Homo sapiens: one gene and its partner. The protein of the gene in region 2 purifies or fractionates together with the protein of the main gene of each other region. This does not show direct contact. Each region holds a gene or a part of one and is shown on either strand. Other genes may lie near its edges.

Evidence for each region.
Region 1: the proteins of TMEM268 (region 2) and CDKAL1 purify together in Homo sapiens (affinity purification with mass spectrometry; one large-scale study listed by BioGRID and IntAct). This does not show direct contact.

Annotation. Positions count from the first base shown.
Region 1 is NC_000006.12:20,544,457-20,547,956, reverse strand, and holds part of CDKAL1 (threonylcarbamoyladenosine tRNA methylthiotransferase), read right to left. Parts: intron 1,619-3,500; exon of another isoform or gene 1,612-1,618; 5' UTR 1,607-1,611; coding exon 1,434-1,606; intron 1-1,433. UniProt on the Homo sapiens protein: Catalyzes the methylthiolation of N6-threonylcarbamoyladenosine (t(6)A), leading to the formation of 2-methylthio-N6-threonylcarbamoyladenosine (ms(2)t(6)A) at position 37 in tRNAs that read codons beginning with adenine.
Region 2 is NC_000009.12:114,644,607-114,646,922, reverse strand, and holds the end of TMEM268 (transmembrane protein 268), read right to left. Parts: 3' UTR 501-2,316; downstream 1-500. UniProt on the Homo sapiens protein: Stabilizes cell surface expression of ITGAM and participates in the adhesion and migration of phagocytes during bacterial clearance.

The sequences.
Region 1 (3,500 bases), on a different chromosome or scaffold from region 2:
AGTGGTTCTAGCAGCAATGGCAAATAAAGAAAAGTATGTCTGTTTACAGATTCCTACATACTAGTTGCAATCTGTAGCTTCCTTAAAACTTACAGATATAAGTAACTTAATCAAAGTTAAAAACCGTCATCCTAAAGCATTATTAAAAGCACTCTATAAAATCAGAGTTCTAAAAATAACTTTTAGGGGAAAAAAGGACTTTCAACTTGGATTGCTCTAATAATTTATAAGTAAATAAAAATTACCTTAAGGACACATTTAGGACAAATTTTATAAACTTCAGTCATTAAAATATAAGCAAATTTTAAATTCCAAGAATTTAAAAGCTTAGTTTCCCAACAAAATAAGCAGATTATAAAGTTCAGCAGTTGACTAGATAAACAAATATAGGCTTATTAAAACCATATAATTACATTATCCTTTCTGGTTAGGTTGTATCAAAATTTCACGGACTAGAGATCTACTATAATAGCGTAAATAGGGCAATAATTTATTTGTGCCCACTGCCTTTACCTGATCCACAGGTATTTGAAAATCAGCTAAGAAAATTCAAATGTCCAAAATACTACTGTCTCATAAGAATCACAAACTCTGGTAAAAATTTTATTTGGAAATAACACAGACTTACATATCAACTACAGTAATACCCAAGAGATCCCTATTGCCCGAGGCTATCTTCTAGGAACATCCAATTTGACATCTCATTTCTTTTTAACCAATTACCTTGCCAAATTTAAAATCATTCAAATAAAAAAAAAATCTACATACAGGTTGAGTTTCTTTAATTCAAAAATTCAAAATCCACAATGCTCTAAAATCTGAAACTTTTTGAGTGCCAAAATGATACTCAAAGGATGCTCACTGGAGCATTTCAGATGTTTGGATTAGGAATACTCAACTGGAAAGTATGTAATGCAAATATTCCGAAATCCAAAAAAAAAAATGTGATATCTGAAACACTTCTGGTCTCAAGCATTTCAGATAAGTGATACTCAACTTGTATTTCCTATCAAAAGTTCAAAGATTCTAATGAAGAGACATTATATATATCACACAGACCAGTAGCGTCAGCTTCTCCCTGGAATGAAAATGAATATAATTTCGGCCGTGCTCAGTGGCTCAGGCCAGTAATCCCAGTACTTTGGGAGGCCAAGGTGGGCAGATCACCTGAGGTTAGGAGTTCAAGACCAGCCTGGCCAACATGGTGAAACCCCATCTCTACTAAAAATACAAAAAATAGCCAGGTATGGTGGTGTGTGCCTGTAATCACAGCTACTAGGGAGGCAGAGGCAGGAGAATAGCTTGAATCCAGGAGGAGGAGGTTGCAGTGAACCGAGATCACACCACTGCACTCCAGCCTGGGCGACAGAGCAAGACTCTGTCTCAAAAGAAAAAAAAAGAAAATGAATATAATTTCAAGGAAAAAAGCTTACCTGTCACTTGGTGGACTGTTTTCTTCCTCTTGCAAATATTTTTGGGTATTTCGCCTTCGTACCTTCGGGACAACATCCTTTCTTACAAAATGCCTATCTTGTGGTTTTGAATCTTCCTGAGACACGATATCTTCGATGTCATCCAGTAGTGTATCACAGGATGCAGAAGGCATATTCTCTACCACATAAAAGTTATAAATAAAATCAACTTATGAAAATCTGCTTAGCGTAGCATCATTTATGAAATATTCTCACCAAATTTGAATCTAATCAAGCCTTTGGATCTAACTTCAAATTTATAGAAAATACAAGAGATAAAGAAACACAAGGATGAAGTACTATCTTGGGTATATTGAAAAAAGAAACACAATGAAACAATCAGACAAAACCCTAATGACAATGGGACATTCCAAGGTTCAACAGGAACTATTTCTTCAACAAATCAATGTCAAGTAGGAAAAAGTAGGAGAGGAACTGTTTCAGATAACAGGAAGCGTAAAAGCCTAACAACAAAATGCAGTTCATGTTCTTGATTGTTTCTTCTTTGTCTGTCAAGCTATAAGAAATTTTGGGTATAACTAGGGAAATCAGAATATAAGCTGGATATTAGATAATATGAAGAAGTTATTATAAATCATTCGATATAAAGTATTGTCCTTATATTCAAAAATTTTATTTTTTAGAGATGCATATTGAATATTTAGAAGTGAAATGTCATTATGTCTATAATTTACTTTAAAAGGACCTCAGAAAAAATAGACTGGCTAGCCACAGTGGCTTATGCCTGTAATCCCAGCACTTTGGGTGGCTTATGCCTGTAATCCCAGCACTTTGGGGAGGTGGGCGCATAACTTGAGGTCAGGCGTTTGAGACCAGCCTGGCCAACATGGTGAAACCCCATCTCTTTTAAAAGTACAAAATTAGCCAGGCATGGTGGTGTACACCTGCAGTTTTAGCTACTTGGGAGGCTGAGGAAGGAGAATCGCTGGAACCCAGGAGGCAGAGGTTGCAGTGAGTCGAGAGTGCACCACTGCACTCCAGCCTGGGCAACAGAGCAAAACTCCATCTCAAAAAAGAAGAAAAAATAGATTAAGACATACTGAAAAGCATTTACAACTCTTAAAACTAGAAACTAGATAGGTTCATGTTCATTATCCTATACGACTTTTCTAAATATTCAAAATTTTTATAATTAAAAGAAGAAAATGTGGACACAGCTTGCAAGAAGATAAGCACATTTTTCCCTGCCCCGCCAGCAAAATACAAATAAAACTCTGGACATTATATATAAAACAAGCATAAGGCAGACTGGCTATGAACCTCAGGACCCAAGGAATATGATGAGTTCCTTGGGTTTTCTTCTGCCTCCTACAGCTCACTAAAGATCCCAGCAATCAGAAATGGCAAGAGATGCCAACAATAAAACCCCCCAATAAAAGCCTGCTTTCTCGTTAAAGAACTATACAAAGGGCAGCCTAGGAAGACAGAAAAGTTTTAGATAATAATCATTCTACTCCAGCCAAACACAAACACACACACACACACACACACACACACAAAACTGTAATCCCACCCCCAGGCACGCTACAAAGGCCAAGTGGGGAGAGCTTGGACTTCTACCTACAATCAAGCACCCCAACACACTCCACTAGTGTAGAATCAGAGAAGGACCTGGAGGGATCCTGGACATTCAAACCAACCAACCGACCAGTAATGAAGTTTTGCAGTGTCAGTGGAGACCAAACTGATACACAAGTTTAAAATAATCCCTATCAAAATCCCAGGAAGATTTTTTTGTAGGTATAGATAAGACTATCCTAAATTTTATATGGAAATGTACAGAAACTAATATATTTAAAACAATTTTGAGAAGAGTAAAGTAAGAAGAACTGGTCTACCCAATTTTTTTTTTTTTTTTTTTTTTTTTTGAGACGGAGTTTCGCTCTGTGGCCCAGGCTGGAGTGCAGTGGCGCGATCTCGACTCACTGCAAGCTCCGCCTCCTGGGTTCACGCCATTCTCCTGCCTCAGCCTCCCGTGTAGCTGGGACTACAGGCGCGCGCCACCAT
Region 2 (2,316 bases):
AAAATTAATCCAGATGGAGACCTTACAACCTTCAGAAAAACTAACTCAAAATGAATCACAGACCTAAGTGTAAAAACACTCAACTATAAGATAACATAGGATAACATAAACTAGGAGCCAACAGCAGCCAGCAGCTGCAGAAGAAACGCCCCCACTGACTGAGCCCTTACTGTGGACCAGGCTTTGTGCTTCACATCAATCACTCCCGTTAATCCCCCTTATTATCACACTCCCCCCTTAATACATGAGGAAATTAGGTACAGAAAGTACAGTAAGAGTGAGTATCTGGCCCAAAGTCACCAGCTTGCTCTTTATCTCCTTGCTATATTATCTCTGGATGCTGAATTCCAGAGATTTGACTAAAATCTTTATTGACATAAATATACCCCATGGCACTGAAATAGCTGAGGTCTGAGGCAGACTGAATAACCTTAACGGTTAATGACCTGCTAGATCAACAAAAATATACATCAGGTATCTACAATATGCGAGACAAAAAATTTTTTAAGTAACAATTTATTGAGCTTTCACTCAAGTTTGGTATTCAAAGTTGCAAGCACTTGACATTTTTTTACACCATTTAATCCTTACAACAACCTGCCAGGTACATGCTCTTATTCCCATCCTATAGATGAGGAATGAGACTCAATGAGAGGAAGAACATTGTTTTTAAGTGGAAGAACTTGGATTAGAATAAACAGAACTCTAGAATCCATGCAATGAGTTACCACCTTCACTCTCACTCGAAGACATTGCACTGCCTACACCATGGCCACATCTATCACTAACACAGAGCCTTAAGACTTAGGAGCTGGCTGGGCATGGTAGTTCACACCTGTAATCCCAGCAGCATGGGAGGCCAAGGCAGGAGGATCACTTGAGGCCAGGAGTTCAAGACTAGGCTGGGTAACATAGCAAGACCTTATCTCTCTGAAAAAATTACATTTAAAAAAAAATAAATAAAAATTAAATAAAATTTAAAAACTGATGAGCATTCCTGTGTGTAGTATGCGATCTTCACAGCAACCCTGTAAAGTAGGTGAGACAGAGATCATAGGGATTTTATAAATGAGGAAACTGAGGCACAGATGCCGAGAAATGTACATTGTGGGCATACCCTGAAAGCCCCACCCACCAGGTGAGACCATCAAAAATTCTAAAGAAAGGAAAAGTCAGGAAAAGAAACACACATCAAAGGCTCTCAAGCAGACCTTACAATTGAAAAACTGCTGCTTTGTCATTTAACAAACACATTTTTATTCTCTGTTAATTACTTACCGGGGTTCTAGGACTGACTGAGAAATACGGGCTTCTTTCTATTGGTCACATTCACAGCCAACATTTCCTCTGTGCCAGGTCAGAAAGACAGTGGTCACCTTCGTGAATAATTTCCTTGAGCAAAGCTGCTCTCAGCCTTGACCAAAGCAGCCTTTCCAGGGGCTGGTCTATACCCATGATCTCTCTTCTCTGGCACACAGAAAGTGAATGGTCAGACTCATCTCTTGAATGGCAAGCCACGTGTTTATTACATTTCTTGTTCACCAGACCCACTTTATTAAAAAGCGAAATGACAATCAGAAAGGTTAAGTGACTTAGCCAAGGTCACACAACTTGGAAGCAGCAGATCAGGAAGAAAAATCCAGGTCTGCTAGGTAGGCCAGTCTTCTGTCCAAGGGTGTCCTAGGACCAGGTCATCTCAGCCATGTGGGGTTGCCAGATGTTTCTGCATGTGGATAAAGATAGATAGGCCAAGGGCTATGAGGGGGCAGAATAAGCTAGAAATTCCCAGAACTTTGGTCCTAGAAGGGCCCTTAAGAATCATCCAGGCTGGTTGTGGTGCCTCACGTCTGTAATCCCAGCACTTTGGGAGCCCGAGGCGGGTGGATCACCTGAGGTCAGGAGTTCAAGACCAGCTTGGCCAACATGGCGAAACCCCATCTCTACTAAAAACACAAAAAAATATCCAGGAGTAGTGGTGCACACCTGTAGTCCCAGCTACTTGGGAGGCTGAGGCATGAGAATCACTTGAACCTAGGTGGCGGGGGTTGCAGTGAGCCAAGATCGCGCCACTGCACTCCAGCCTGGGTGACAGTGCAAGACTCCATCTCAATTAAAAAAAAAAAAATCATCCAATCCACCCATTATATTGATGGGCAAACTGAGGACCAGGCAAAGAAAGCAACTTGCCAAAAATTACACAGCTTGAAGTGGCAGATCAGGTCCAGAACCCAGGTCCACAGCAATGTCATCATTCAAGTGAGTTTGGAAAGCAATTTGCAAAAGCTGCTGTGGGGATGGCAAAGCAATCAATCCACA